Regions from separate parts of the Homo sapiens genome. Here region 2 is linked to region 1. A link means that fine-mapping ties the variant in region 1 to the expression of a gene that starts in the linked region. Tissue or cell type: adrenal gland. Region 1 holds a variant in brackets; the other region holds the start of a gene. All regions are shown on one strand. Distances are between the middles of the regions.

Region 1 (8,356 bases):
AGAAGCAAGTTTGGGGGAGAAGATGCCAAAGTGTTTTTTATGTCCCGAGATTGAGGTTGCAGTTGCATAGCGCAGAATATGAAAAAAAAAATTCTGAGAATAGGGGTCTGTGGATCCCCACCTCTTTTAGGGATCCAGCAGAGGGGGGATCATGAAGGTTAATGAAAAGATAAAAGTCTTAAAAATCAAACGAAAATCGGAAAAGTGAAAGTAAGAAAGGCTTTCAGCAGGGATAGAATGTTGGAAGGGCTAACCTTGATAGAAAATACTTAGCAGAATCATGGGGAAAGAAGAAACCAAACTGTAGTCATATTTCAGAGATGAATCAAGTCTGGGGCATGGTATCCTTATTAAAATAAAGAATGGGAGGCTGAGACGGTCGGATCACAAGGTCAGGAGATCAAGACCATCCTGGCTAACACGGTGCAACCCCGTCTCTACTAAAAATGCAAAAAATTAGCCAGGCATGGTGGTGGACACCCGTAGTCCCAGCTATTCCGGAGGCTGAGGCAGGAGGATGGCGTGAACCCAGGAGGCGGAGCTTGCAGTGAGCCGAGATCACGCCACTGCACTCCAGCCTGGGTGACAGAGCGAGACTCCATCTCAAAAAAAAAAAAAAAAAAAAAAAAAAAAAAGAATGAAGTATCTTAGCCAACTTCTAATACATGTGTGTTTGTTTTCTCAAATAGATTTTCTAGCAAGAGAAATACATGATGATAAAATATTTAGCCATTTAAGTATAAAATTTATTTAGAAAATAGCTAACAAACTAATATTTTATCCATGGCAAATTGAACAGCTTTATCTTCTATCTCTTGCAGGTCTCTCTGTATGTTCAAATCTTTCTGATGCTTCACTTGTTTACTCTTGAGATTTGATTTATATTTCTGAAAATCCATCCATGGCAAAATTTCTTTGTGCAAAGTATATTGATGTTGTGACTGCTGATATACCCTTTACTTTTTCAACCACAGTATAGACATTTTATATCATTCTTCCATATACAGGAAAGGATTATATATCAAATTAGAACAGCCATTAATGATTATAACAATGCAGGTAAGTATGAAATTAATGTATTATTAGTTTTTTAAATACTAAGAATCATGACCCTAGAAAACTGTAATAATAGGAAATTTCAGAGGATAAAATTTCCTAGAAATAGTAACTTACAAAAATTATACACCCATTTAAAAGTTGACTGTTTTTAATGGCTAAGACCTAACCAGACCAATCCTCCCACAGATAACAAAAGTAAGCCCAAGACATAATCAAGAAAAACAGCCACTTGAGGGCACTGAAAAAGAAACAGAAGCAGGACTGGAAGTGGACAAACAATATTTTTACCCACATCTCTCTGACCAGAACTCATTCACATGACTGCAATTTATCTGAAAGGGAGACCTAGGAAGGTAGATTTTTCTCTGTGCTCAAAAGAGGAAACTGGATGAGCATCATCCAACAAGTCTCTGTCACATACAGATTTTACCCAGAGCAGCGAAACTAGCTGGATGCTAAGTACGTCTCACATATGCTTTTCTTCTTTCTGTAACATATCACAATAATCAATTTTCCTTTATTTCTTCCAAAGCTGAAGAGCTGAAAGCTTTTGTCTCTTCTATCAACAATTCCAACTGTACGTTCTTCTTCATTTGACATTCACATTTTTATTCATTCAGTTACTTAAGGACAGAAGTATACATACAAATCAAGACATAAGATAAAAAAATTTAAAATCCATCCAAAATCTCAACAGTTTTGTTGAATTTTCCATTGTTTCCTTAGAAAGCTAACAGAGGTCTGTCTAACAGGTAGCATACCTTTTCTCTATGGGAAGTCAGAACCAGTTGAAAAATAACAGTGAAGCAGCAGAAAGACAAAAATATCAGATTATTACTGTAAAAGAAACTAAAAAAATATAACTTATATACACAAGAGAGTTTTCCAATTCTGAGCTCTAGAATTAGACATATGTCCCCCCTCACCTACCCACATGCAGTGCAATATATCCTCACTTGCATGAAGAGTGTTGCCCATTACAATCCAGAGCATGAAGGTGCAGAGCAAAATACACCTTTCCTATGGGAGAGTAGCTTACTGTAGACGGAAGGAGATAGAGACTGGTTATGATTACTCAGCTCCTTCCTCCAACTCAACCATATAAGCCACTCCTCCCTGCAGATAGAAGGAACTGAGAAACTGGAGAGCACTCTGGAGCTTTAAGTCATTGGAGGATCTTTCACATGAAAAGAAATAGGAGACATTGTGAAGATGCCAGCCCCAACCACAATAAAAAAATACGCCTTTTAAAAATAATACATATAATATTTAAATTAGAAAATAATTACTTCCTTAGGTTATTTAAATTATTCTGTTTATGTATCTTCCCATAATCTTCTCAACCCACCGGAATAAACAATGTTTTTATAATTTTGGTTTCATAACTCCAGAATACCAGTGATCAGCCCGATTATGAAATACAATCTTTAATAAATCATAGATTTTCAGAATCATAGGTTTTATAATCATGAGGACTTATGTTGAAGAAGCCAAAGTTGCAAACAGGTATTACCTTCATTAAATTGGGATCTTACTTAAATGAGAGATAATCAATGTAAATATTAATACAGTACAGGAAAAGATTAATATGATACTCTATGATTGTTTATATGTCATAAACTATATTTCCGTGAAGTTGGTATCACATTCAGAAATAACACCTATAAAAAGAAATATTTCTCATAATATATAGCTTTTAATTTTAAAGATTTTGTACTTTATAAAGATGTTCATGCATGTTGGATTGATCTTAACCCAACTAGATTCAACATTTTAATCCTTACTTAGCCAAAAGGTACATGAGTTGTGCCTGATTTGTAAAAATTTTGATTTGACTCCTTTTAGATTTTACATTTAAATTCCCAATAAACCCAAGAAAACTCGCTTTCAAGGATTAGAATCACTGTATGAAAAAATTTACATTGCCACAGAAGATACTCAATGACAATTTAGAATCATTCAACAAAAGTTTGAATAATATGATCAAGAATAGGTTGATTGACACTTTTGCATAAAACTAATAGTACAATGATTTCTTTCGTGGACCTCTAAAAGCTCTCAGCAGAGCATATCTAATATGTTTGTTTTAAACATGGAATCTAAAAGTTCTTATGCAACACACAGAAATGTTTACTATGCCATAATACCAATAGCTACCTAAAGGTTAGGGATCTAAGAGGGCAAAATAAGACATCATCAGTATTTAATATATATTCATTCTAAATGTCTCTGTGAAAGTGAAGTTCCACAGGAGTCTTTATAATGATGCACTGAGATGGTGGTGGTCTTGGGAAGTAAAGAAAAGAAAGCCACATGACTAAGGTTTGATCCACCTGCTTCAAATAATCTAAACATATTTCTTTCTCCTCTTTTTTTTTTTTTTGTTTTATTAAGCACTTAACGTTTTTCTCCCAATGAGAGAAGTACCAGTTTCAAGTAGACCAGGATAGACTTTAGATGACCAAAAGCCTAGATCACTTCGGTGAGATACAGGAAAACTGAAGTTTGCACCTCGTAAAATTAGACCATATTTACTCATTTTTAGGCTTCTGGGAAGCCAAATACTATTATTAAAATCAGGGACTCAACACATTTAGCAGGGGTTATAGGGTTTGGTATCAGAAAGATGTGAACTAACAGACTATAGAAATTTCCTGGCCTGAGAGTCTTTATATCTTCTCAGAAAGAGATGATCTGATTAAAAAAAAAAAAAAAAAGGTGCCAAAGAACAAACCCTGACACTATGTTATTTTCATCTACAACATCTGTGTTACATTATTATTTATTTCAAACACTAAATCAATTCAGAGAATAATGCATGTGCTTAATGCAGAAGGAGCAATGTCTCTTCGCCGTTTTCAATAAGAGCTGAGTCTTTCTCATGAACCTAAAATCATACTGTCACTAATCCAGATCTTTAACAATCAATCAATCCTATATTCAAATGACCAGAAAAAAAAGCTAAATTCATATATAGAAGCCTTTCACAACTGGGTTGTGACTTTTTTATTTAAGGAGTATATATTCAACGTCATGTAATTGATTGTTCTCAGTCAAGATTTCTGACTTAGAAGTAAACATATATAATTTATTTAGCACTTACTGTGGACTTACTAAATTCCAAATGCTGTCTTAGACTCAATCTTTATAATTGAAGAGTTGCTTTTCAAACACATAGTTGGTAATACAATATGGTAAATGTGATTTATAAATTAGCAAAATACTGAAGAAGCAGCAGAGATTGAAAAATAATTAGGTAGAGTACTTGGAGATAGGCTTACAAAAATGACATTTAGGCTACATTTTCTTGAAAAATGATCAACTGATGTCTTGATTAGAACAGTCTGAGTCTAATAAAAGTGTCAAATTGTCTTACATATGTAACAATAAAACATAAGTTGTTTTTTATAATTATGAGGACTTATGTTGAAGAAGCCAAAGATAAAACTACAGTATCATAGAATCCATAAAGCATCAAAATATAGAATCCTGAAAGTTTATATAAGTGAAGTTTTTAAATTAATGATTGATTGACACTAGGGCAGAGATTCTGTTTTCAAAACTGTCCAACTGGATAATTTGAACCAATCCTTCAAATTGATTTAATACTTAAAAATCTTATTAAAAGCAACAAAAGACTAATGAAGAGGAGGAATCACTCGGCCAAGGTCCCAGAGAAGAGTGACTCTGGAGAGATAAGTCTGGCATTTGGGTTTGCTTTCACCCTTGGGGCATCTTGCCAACACGGGAAGAGACAACAAAGGGAC[T/C]GCACAGCATGTTCATTACCTCTCATGCTACAGGGATGAAATGTGGAGTCAAGAGTAGTCAAATGGAAAAAGAGTAAGGATATACCAAAAGAAAGCAGCCCTCAATGGATGGTAGCCAGGCTGCTAGTCATCTGAGTAGACGAGAACAATCCCAAGCCTTAAAACACGATTAAAGTGATTTTTAAAATCTCCAATGTTCTGGGTATCTAAAAGAGCAAAAGAATATCCCCTTTAGAATCAGATATTATCATCTTAGACATATAATTATTTCCTCAAGCATTTTTAATAACAATCTGCAGCACACAATGGCAGGTATACAAGCAAAGATAACATGACATGAACAGAACCAACACAAACAAAAGAAAATGGGCAAAGGCCCAGAAAGAGTACAGAAGTGAAAATTATCAGAAAAAGACAGATATCAAATATGTATAAAGATAAAATTTGAAACTAAAAACTTTAGCCAGGAATTGGTAACATTTAAAGAGGTATGTTATAAATTTAAAATAAAATCAAACAGAATTTCCAGAAAATAAATATTTAATAAATAAAAGTAAAAACTAGCAATCTCAACATGGGGTATCTATCTGAAGGAAGTCATTTTATCAAAATAAGTATCTTCACTCACATGTTTATCACAACACTGTTCACAGTAGCAAAGACAGAATCAACTTAAGTATCCATCAACAGATAACTGGATAAAGAAAATGAAGTATATATCCACAATGAAATACTGTTAAGCCATAAGAAAATAAAATCATGTCTTTTGCAGTAACATAAATGGAATTGGATGCCATTATCTTAAGTGAAACAACTCAAAACAGAAAGTTAAACACTGTGTATAATTGGGAGCCAAATAATATGTATGTGGACATACAGTGTTGATTTACAGACACTAGAGATTCAGAAGCACAGGGGGGAAGAAGTGGGCAGGGTAATGAGAAATTACTTAATAGGTTCAATATGTATTATTTGGTTGATGAACACACTAACAGCCAAGACTTCACCACTATGCAGTATAAGGATGTAACAAAAGTGCACTTGTATTCCTTAAATTTATACAAATAAAAAACTAAATAGGCAGATTTAACTGCAGATGAAACACAGCTAACTTGAGAATTAATGAACTTGGAGATTTTGTAGAAGGAAGTGTAAAGACCAAAAAAGAGAAAAATATATATGATTATAAGAGATACAGAAAGCAGAGGGAAAGGAACTAACATAAATTGAATCAGAGTGCCAGAAGAACAGAACAGAGAAAATAAATGGAAAAAACCATAAATAAATAATAGCTTAGAGTTTCCAAAACTGATTAAAGACATCAATCCACAAATTCAATATTACAATCAATTCTAAAAATGACAAACAAAAACAAATTCTCATGTGTGATTATATCAACATGAAATAGCGAAAAATAAATACAAAGATAAATAGTAAAATAAAATTGAAAAACCCATTACCAACCTAAAAGATGCATATTAGAAGAAAATTCACTATAGAAAACATTTTTGAAATAATTTGGGATTTTAAAATATGGAATCGATATTAGATAATATAGGTTTATTTTTCTTAAGAGTAATAATGCACTATAGTTACATAAGAGAATGTCCTTATTCTTAGGAGACACACACTGAAGTATCTAGGGCTGAAGTTGCACATCTTTAATTTATTTTCAAGTTTTATATATATATTTTTATTTACTATATGATATATAGTTACTATATATGATAGTATATATAATTGTATATATATAACTTGAAATTATGTGCATAGTTTTATATATATAACTGTATATACAATCATTTTATATAGATCTATACTTGAAATTATATATATATATTAATAGTATATATATAACTGTATATACTATCTGAATATATAGTACATATGTATATATTCTGTATGTTTGAAATTTTTAAAAATAAAAAAGACAAAGAACATACTATAAGTAGGGAAAAAAGAAATTTCTAGGGAGGAGCATGAGATGGACTGACATAATTTCTCAGTAACAGCAATGTAAGCCAGAAGCAATTGAATGATGTTCTCAAATATTCCAAAAAAAAGTACAATCTAGAATTCTATACAAAATGAAAATCTTTCAAAAATGAAGGTGAACTAAAGACCAATTCAGTCAAACCAGAGAATTTGCCACCAACAAACTTGTACAATTTAAATAGTAACATATTTCTTCTTCAGCAATAAATGATCTCAGATGAGAGTGCATAGATGAAAGGACAAAGCACAGCAATGAAATAGTAGCTACATGAGGAAACCTAAATAACAATTTTCTTTAGTAAAACAGTAACAATATTTTGGTGGAAATTATACATTGTACACATATACACAAATATACATAAGTGTATGTATGTATGCAAGTATGTATAGCAAATGCACACACAAGTACATAGTTAAAATATACAGTAAAATTGGCATATAATCTTAAGAGGGTAAATAACAGTAAATGGAAATAGAGTGTTCTAAGGTACTTATATTGATCAGGAGGAAGGTAGAATTAACAATTAACATTAGACTATTATCATTCAACATTAGAAATTACATATTGTAATTTCTAGGGCAATGAATGAAAGAATACCATAAGAACATAGAGATTTATAACACATAAAAATAAAATATTGAAATAATCAACAGAAGGGAATCCAAGAAAAAATATGGTAACATCAAACAAGTAAGACAAATAAAAACAGAATATGATAGATTTAAAAGCAAGTATGTCAGTGACTATTTCAATGGAAATGAAATTAAAGCTCCAATTTAAAGAAAAAATTTGTTAGATTACAAATAAATGCTTAATAATTTACTGTTTATAAAGGACATAAATTAATCATATGACCCAGAAATCTCTATTCTGAGTATATACCCCAAAGAAATTAAATCACCACCTTGTAAAGATATCTGCATTTCCATGTTCATTGCACATTATTCACAATTCCCAAGATATGAAAGCAATACGTGTCCACTGACACATAAAGGAACTGTGATGCATATATACAATGAAATATTACCCAGCCATACCAAAAAAAAAAAGATTTTGCCATTTGCCACAACATGAATGAAACTGGAGGACATTATGCTATGTGACATAAACCAGACATAAAAATAAAAGTTGTATTATATCACTTATATAAGGAATCTAAAAATTAAAAGGTTGAATATACAGAGATAGAGAATGAAACAGTGGTTACTAGGATTAAGGTAGAGGGTATGGGGAGATATATGTCAAAGGATATAAAGCAGCAGATAGATAGGCTAAACAAACCTAGAAATATAATGTACCACATTAGGACTATAGTTACTAATACTGTATTCAAGATTTTTGCTAATTGAGTAGATATTAGCTGCTCTTGCCACGAAGGAGAAAAAATGGTTAACTATGTGAGATGCTGGATATGTTCATTTGCTTCATTCTATTAACCATTTTGTTATCTACATGTATCTGATAACACCAACTTATATGCAAAAAAAAATTTAAAAAGAACATAAAACTGTAAAAATAAATTAATAAACAATCG
Region 2 (8,356 bases), 68 kb after region 1:
CTTGGGAGGCTGAGGCAGGAGAATTGCTTGAACCCAGGAGGCAGAGGTTGCAGTGAGCCAAAATCGCACCACTTCACTCTAACCTGGGCAACAGCGCAAGGCTCTGTCTCAAAAATAAAATAAAATAAATTTTTAAAATACGGCTTATGTTATCACAAGCATCACAAGCAGAAGTTGTTTTTTGTTTGTTTGTTTTTGTTTTTGTTTTTTCATCTTAAAAGAACCCTGCCTGGTAGGTATCACTTTTCCTGTTATATAGATGAAGAAACTGAGTATCAGAGAGGTGGAAAAAAAATGACACATCCTTTATTTCCCAGTAGGTAGAAGTGTCAATAATCACTCCCAAGTGTTTTTCTTGTCAAAGTAGAAATTTTCCACTATATCATAAATTGTCTTAATTGAAGATCAAAGATAACTTGAATTTAATTTTTTGCCCATGTTTGTTTTGTATTTAAGAAACATAAGATTATCCCAAGTCTATTGGGAGAAAAAGGTGATTACGTTAATCAAAAGAAAAGTCACTTTAAAGAGTCACAGGAACACTATTTTTTAACCAGAAGCTGTTTTAGACATGACACTAATAACTTTCCTTAATTAAAAAACTTATCAAGCTTTATGAAAAATATTTAAGAAACACGATCTAACTAAAAAATGGTTCTTATTGATAATCTAAATGTAGTTAACTCACAAGTTTGCATGTGTGGTAAGTATTAATCCCTCTTTTCTTAATATTTTTAAGATCTCATTTATATCTGCAGAAATAAAGGCCAAGTCTAGATGGCAGGTCAAACTTTTTACTAAAGTTTGAAAATAGCGCCTACAGTTTTTTGAAAACCATTCGAACTGCTGGAATATTTGGCAATATTTGACATCGTCATATAATGAGTCAACCAAAATGGTTATGATTATTTCAGTGCTTGCAAAGATTTCAGGCTAGAAAATCTTCCCCAAACCTCTCTTAATTGGACAAAAATTTATAATGCTCCTAGGAGTATGGAATCACCATAACTGAATATATAAATCTGAACAGATCTATGTCTGTCAGCAGACACAGAATATTTCCAGATAATATTTTCATGTATATACATTTTTGGCCTCAAACATTAATAGTAGTTCAATAGACTTAAGAACATAAATCTGTCCCCAGTACCCAAAATAAAGTATATGCCTCAAATTACATTTTAGTGCCATAAATATATTATTAATCATTAAACTAGGAAAGAATGAAAAAAGTTTCAAAAATGTGCAGCCATTGAATTTTTGTTCCGAATATACAAACATCACTTCGTTGTATCATCAGTAGCCTGAGACTTAATTAGAATTGCAAAAAAACATATACATCACTTAGTCCAACTCCTTAATTTGAGAGACAAGGAAACTGGGCCCAGGGAAAGAAAGCTTACCCAGATTCAGTTGAGGTTAAAGTGGAATTCAAATCTAGGTATCTAGATTCACAGTTTAATGCACTTCCCAGAAGCAGAAAAGATATAAATAAACTTATGTAATTTCATCTGGCAACCAAATTCAGACACTGAGTAGAACTTTAAGGATAGTCCTGAGTTTGCTGTTTTATCATATTCAAAAGCACCTACCATAACAAGTGGATAACTAAACAACATTATAATCGCAGGATGAACATTATTTTAATTATTTAAGCATATTATAAACAAACTTCAAACTACATTATTCAAGAACTCTTCTGAGTAACAATCAACTGAAATCATTCTCATTGAAAACACACAGCACAAACAAGTGAAATAAAACAAACTACAATGGACCCCCCAAAAACCCCAAATAAACATCCAACTAGTACTTTCAACCCCACAGCCTTCAATTCTACATGAAGCACTGTCAATTGAGCACTGATTTGCCTGTATCACCAATCAAAATGCAAAATAAATCATTGTGAAATCTCATTGGTTTATACTACTGCCTTTATATATATTAGCTTCCGGAAAATCATTCTGAAGAACTGAATCATCTGTATCATTTTTACTACTCACTCAGGCTTGACACTGTCTGCACAGTACTGACTGAAATGTACTTTGCACCTTCTTTCCAAATGAATATCTATGTCAGGTTTATTTACAGCCACTCCCTTCAATCAGTGCATTCTCAGGTATGAGAAATAAAATAATCTCAACCATACTCTTCTATAGAGATCTGAAACTAAGCGTGGACATCTTGGCAACTGGCCTTTGGAAAGATAATGAAAGATCTATACCATAAAATATACATTAAGATTATTGAGATTCCAAGAACAATCATCTTACACTCTTTAATTAGCACATGTAAAGAGCCCCAGGTACAGAGAGCTAATATAAAACCTATGCACCCTTTTGCATAACTCTTTAGGTACTCCAAGATTATTATAACCTCCTCCATTCTCTTTTCCTCATTCTGATTTCTCTGAAATTTGGGTAACCTCTTTGTTTCTTACTTAGATGTTTTTCTCTATTTAGGAGCTTTTCCTTCTAATTCTTTACAAAAGCAGGGCATGCTTCCCCCTGCTGGGAAAAAATCAAATTACAAGGTACATCAGAACATGTTCCTAAGTATTATATCAAGAAATCAAGTTCCTAGGAAAGATAAAATGTTAAGGAACCAAGTGCATTCTCTGACTGTTTTACCAGCCACAGAAATACTTATGCACTCTGTTAAGAGTTTCTTGTATGCATTTATTTAGCTTGGCCGTCTTCAAGTACAATAACTCATATTAATGACTGATGAATTAATCTTTGAGCCACTTGTCTCAAATAGAACTCCAATTAGCGGGTCAGAGAGAATGATCAATTTGTAACTTTTTTTTCACTTTAAAGACATATTATAAGCTACATAAAGAAAATTCTGGAAAATATATTGAAGACTATTCAAAATATATTAAAGATACTGAAGACTGGTAAGACTTGCCTTTTAAATCATTTCAAACAATCTTAAACATCTATTAACACATTATTTTGCTATTATTTTTATGTAGTTGTCTTTTTTGGGAAAGTAAAAAAAGTTCGTTTTTATTGACTTTACTTTTCCACTTTAATTTATATTTTTTTTCATTCAGTAACCAAGAAAGTAGTAGGCATAATTGTATTTCACCTTCCCACTTATCTATAAAACTAGCTTTTTCCCTGAAAACAGTTTAGTTATTTCACATGTTCCATGTTTTGAATATAAATCTTTTCCTAATTGTTTAGTATTTAAACATAGAAAAATACCTTACACTTCATTGTTAATATAAATAACAATTCATAAATTAAAAAATATAGCTAATGCCTATTTAAATCATATATTGAGGAGCAGAATTTATTCTTCCTTGGTACAACTAAGTCTCAAAAAAATCTTTTAATACTGAGGAGCTTGGGTAGAGGAAGTTATCCGTTTTAGTTTTTTGCTGTATGTAAGTCCATAACAAACTTAGCTACAAAACTGCATTGTAACCAATTTGATGATGAAGCAATTCATTATTAATGAAGCATTCATCTAAAAAAAATCTGCAGATGTTTTAAAAAGGCATGGGTAAGTAACTACAGATACCATAGGTGTCTTTAGTATTTAGATGGCATTATTATAACATAAATGGAGTAATTCGGTTAATAAAGTTCATGTGTCTTTTTTCAAAAAAAAACCTTTCAAAGCAATGCAAAAAACAAGACATATGTGTTCCTCTAGGAATGAAATCCCCTTTAACATTACAGGTACACAAAAGAAAATGCACACTTGGTAAAACAGTTGATCAATTATAGAGTGTTCCCAGGGACCAATATCTCACAGAGTACCCAATCATCACACTTCAAATAAATGTATAAGCACTTTAGCCTTTACTTACCACATTAACATACATATAAGAACATGCATAGTTTAATGCATAGGTTAATTCTAACACTTTCCATAGGATAGACTTTGATTAAAGGGTATCAAAAATCACTTCCTAAATGCAGCAAAAAATAAAAATAAAAATACCGATCTGTAGCTACGAAGCTCTTAGAACACTACATTGATCACCATTTACTTCCAAACTGCTTTCCCTTCCCTCTGCGAAGTGAAAATGTCCCTGTAGACCGCGTTACATACACTTTATGGTTTCTCTATCAATGATCCTAACAGGTCACATCGCCACTGCCATTAGATCTCCGTAGCTTTGGTCTTCTCCAAATTAAGACGTGGAGAAGGAGCACTGCTGTCCGCCCCAAGAACGGGGTCTGTCCGCCCGAGCTCTAAGGCGAGCATCTTCAGGGGGACAGTTTCTGCGAAGGCGGGGAGAGGAGTCCCTCCCCAACTTCACTCCCCTAATCAAGCCGCGGGTGAGATAGGCAGCCGGCGGTTTGTGCCCATCTGTGGGGGCAAGTCCTACCTTCTGCCAAAAGGCGCGACGCATGCACAAAAGATGGATCCAGGCTATCTTTCTCTGCCATCAGCTCAGGCAAATATTTCTCCTCTTCCATAGCGCGGACTTCGGATTGTCCCCGGGCGAAGCGCGAGGTTCCGCTCGCTCGGACGCAGGCAGGGTCTTGGGGCAGCGCCTGGCTCCCGCGCTGCTCCTCCTCCGCGCGGCGAGGGATCTCTGTGCGTCCTCACTGGCCCATGCACCCAGCACCTGCGACTCCCGCCGTCGGGCTGCGTGGCCCCGCGCCCACACCTGCCCGTCCCTTCCGTCGTCCCTCGCTCGCGCAGAGCCCCGGCTCACACCAGCGGCCTTAACTGGAGAGGCGGGAACAGGACGCGGCCCACCTCCGCCAACCACTCATTGGTGGTGGTGCCAGGAGAGGCGGGGCGCTGGCAGAAGGCCGCGGGCTCTCATTGGGCGGTAGCGCAAGTCGGGTGGCCTGACTGGCAGGAGGCAGCTGCAGAGGGGAAGGGAGCTCGGAAGATGCAAACGCTTTCTTCTTGCGCCCAAGCCTTCCCTGGCTATTAGGCATGCCCAGTTTTGTGGAGTTCTCTGTGTCTTCAGCTAAGGCGCAGAGGAGAGAGAGCGCGGGAAAAGCGCAGGTTAAAGAGAGAGGTCTGAGTACAAGTGGACAGGGGAGATGGAGATGAGAAGTGAGCCACCCGAGAGGGTGGAAAAGCGCCAGGGAAAGTCTCAGGAAGGTAGATGGGACTTCACCTGCGTCCCTAAGGCACAGGTGTCTCCTTTCCCTCACACAGCTCAGGCGCACTCCAGTTGTGCAGGAATCAGCAGCGCACTGGGTCTGGAAATACAATGAAGACTGCATGTGATCGGCAGCTGGTATTTCCGATGACCTACATCTCAGGGACGCAGTAGGATGTTCATTGATAAACAAATAAAGCGGCTCGAAGAAATATTGTGCAGAGACATGATTGAGGTGTACAATCATTAGGATATTGAATTAGTTCTGGTAACCTATCCGTGCCTCCTTTCCCCAGACCCTATCTGTGGAAGGGAGGTTGGGAGGGGCTGAATTTAAAAACCAAAAACAATATGATTCATTAGTCACAGTTTGTGAAAGAATTGGGAAGACATGTAGAAGAAAGAAGAGACTAGAAAATAGGTAACCACGTTTGCTCTAATTTTCCCCTTTCTCCTAGTTTTAGATGTGCCAGTCTCTTTCACCAGGTACTGTTGCTGAGCTACTTTGTATTATCCCACCTCTATTTAAAGGAAAGTTAAACCCTCATGATATCACCAAGCGTGGAGGCAAAGCCCATCCTTCTTTTACCAATGCGGCTATAAAATGTAACTTGCATGCCTCAATCGCTAGGAAACAATCTTTCCCCAAGTCTTGGGTTCTCGTTTCATAAGTAGTCATTTCCTGATTCTTCTCTCCCCCATTATTTTTGGTGTGGAAGAATGAGGGCCAACTTTGCTACAAATAAAATGTGCTGAAATTTTTCCAACTTATCTTACTGTATTTAAATATTTTCCTTTTAATTTTTAGATAAATTCGGGAGATTAACTTTTATTTGTATAATGTTTAAATAACGTAACGTGCCTCACATTGATTATTTCAATACGTCCTCACAGAAGCACTCTGAAAAATGCCAGCCAAGTATTACTTTCTCTGTTTGTATAAATATGGAAACTGAGGCAAAACAGAGAAATCGTCTCATGTCTAGTTAATGCTGAAGTTGAGATTAAAATTCAATTCTATATTAGCACCATTTATATCCAGAATATACTGCTTCAACCTACCTTTCTGTGTGTTATATATTTAATTTATTTGTGCATGTGTGCATTCAACAAATGTTTATTGGATACTGAAAAGAGTCTAGGGACAGTACTTAAAATTGGAGAAACATTGGTGAATAAGATACATACACATTCATTCCTTGTCATCACAAAGATGTTTTCTAATGGGAGAAGATAAATAAAACCAAGTATACAAGAGGAATGGTAATTGTTGACTGCAATAAAGGTCAAGAATGAACCAAGGAGTTAAGAAAGAGAATACAAGGGAAGACATTAGTTTCTTTATTTTTGACTAGGGTAAACATACAATCTCGATAAGCAGCTGATATTTACGGTGAAAACTCATGGAAAAGAATGAACCAAGTGAGTACAATGTGCAAAGAAAGACATTCCAAGCAGGGGAACTTGCCCCTGAAAAAGCCCTGTGGTGGAAAGAACTGTGCTGTCTTTTGGAATTGACTGAGGTCAATGTGACTACTGTAATATGGGAAAGAATGGAATCAATAAGGGAGGGGGGATTGATGTGTACAAACACTGAAGATTTGATGAATGAAAATTATTTGGATTTTATTCTAAGTGTAATAGGGGACCATAAAGTATTGGTATCTTTCTGGATGTGCTTCTTAATCTCTTTCTGATTCTTATGTTACTTTCAAAGGAGCTATTATTTAGAATTGAGTATATATACAGAAAGTTCTTGCTATTTTATCTGTGTGCAGAATGTTTAGTAGTTGAAGGGTCATGCATCCTGCACCTGGTCTGCAACAGGGATATAAAGGGAAAATATGCTTCAAACTTAAAAGAGGTGGCTACGATTTGCTATGGTAGTAAAGGGTGAATACGATGCCAACCACAGGCAAAAAACTGTAAATGTTTTCGAATAAATGTAAATTAGAACAAAATATTTTACAATTACAATAACATTTTGCTTTGCAGCATATCAAGACATTAAAAGCATATGGTGAGGATGGAGACGTGCAGAAACCCAGTTTCATGAATGAAGAAGGTGTAGTAACTCTTATAATGTCCAGCAACAACAACTACTTTATTATTCACAGCCATCTTTTCCATGATTACAGGATTAATAAGAAGATACCACAGCGAGCTGTCCAAGTGCTGACTTTATTATACAATGTCTTCAAGTCATTATAAATACAGTCAAGTTAATATTTTCTAGTTATTATCAAAACTAAAGATTTATTATTTGTAGTTCTTCAGGTAATCCCTCATCAAATGCCTAAAATGTATTCTAACAAAGCAATATATTTATGCAACTTAAAAAATCAAAAGAAAATAAACTCTAACATAATCTTTAGAAAAGTTTGTGTACTTACTACATGATGGACATTGTAAAATAAAGATATATAAGTATATTGACCCTTAAAAATCAATATGCTTCAGAATTATCTCACAAAATGTTGCCTATTTTTAAACAGAATATGACTAAATAAAGGCAAACACCAAGGGCCCTACATATACACTCATCCAGCATCAGATCCACGTGTTTTCAATAGATGGCTCTGTGTTACTGCATGTTCTCCATTTATTTCACATGCAAATATTTTACAGGTACAACATTATCCTTTAATATTCTCAGAGAAACCTTGAAAATGCAAACATTTTATAAACATAAATGTAAACAGAAAAACTTTAAAAAATGATTGTTGAATATAGAATATTTTGTGTCTACCCTTGAATAAATTATAACTGCTGTTTAACCCACCTCTTCTAATGATATGAATAACCTAAATCACCACTGAATTGATTTGCCTAACTTAAGTAAAGATTTATCTTATTTTAAACATGACTTCTAGCCCCAAAACATTTTTAATGGAGTTCTAGTAACTTTAACATTATTTTTAAAATGGGATATTATAGAAAATTTTGCCCCAACCACATTTGGTTTTGAAGGATGAATAAGTCATGCACCATAGAATATGTTCTGTGGTTAAAGCACAAACTGTATATTCAATATTTTCACACACCCTTGTAAGAAAGGTCAGGCTAAAGGGCATTTAATCAGACTAATCCTTGCAAACTAATAAAAAAATACCCAGCCTGCATTATCAAGTAGAGCACAGTTTCTGTTGCTTCCAGAGTTCTTATTAACTTTATGGATACCACATTAGCTACTCTTGACTAGTTACTCCAAGGATTAACTAACTCTTGACTAGTTACTCAAAGGATTCAGTAAAACCAACTCACAATAAGAAC

Evidence for each region. PIP is the estimated chance that this variant, and not a neighbour inherited with it, causes the effect.
Region 2: it holds the start of KHDRBS2, and the variant in region 1 is fine-mapped to the expression of KHDRBS2 in adrenal gland (GTEx, PIP 0.96).

The regions. Positions count from the first base shown.
Region 1 is chr6:62,213,269-62,221,624 of GRCh38, forward strand. All of the region lies in intron 1 of KHDRBS2 (KH RNA binding domain containing, signal transduction associated 2), which reads right to left. Among named protein-coding and RNA genes, the nearest start is that of KHDRBS2, 69 kb to the right of the region's middle. The variant T/C (reference allele first, on the strand shown) is at 4,827.
Region 2 is chr6:62,281,510-62,289,865 of GRCh38, forward strand. KHDRBS2 (KH RNA binding domain containing, signal transduction associated 2) reads right to left here and starts at 4,716. Exons shown (of 9, transcript NM_152688.4): 1 at 4,349-4,716. The coding sequence starts at 4,439. RefSeq lists a silencer at 4,576-4,665.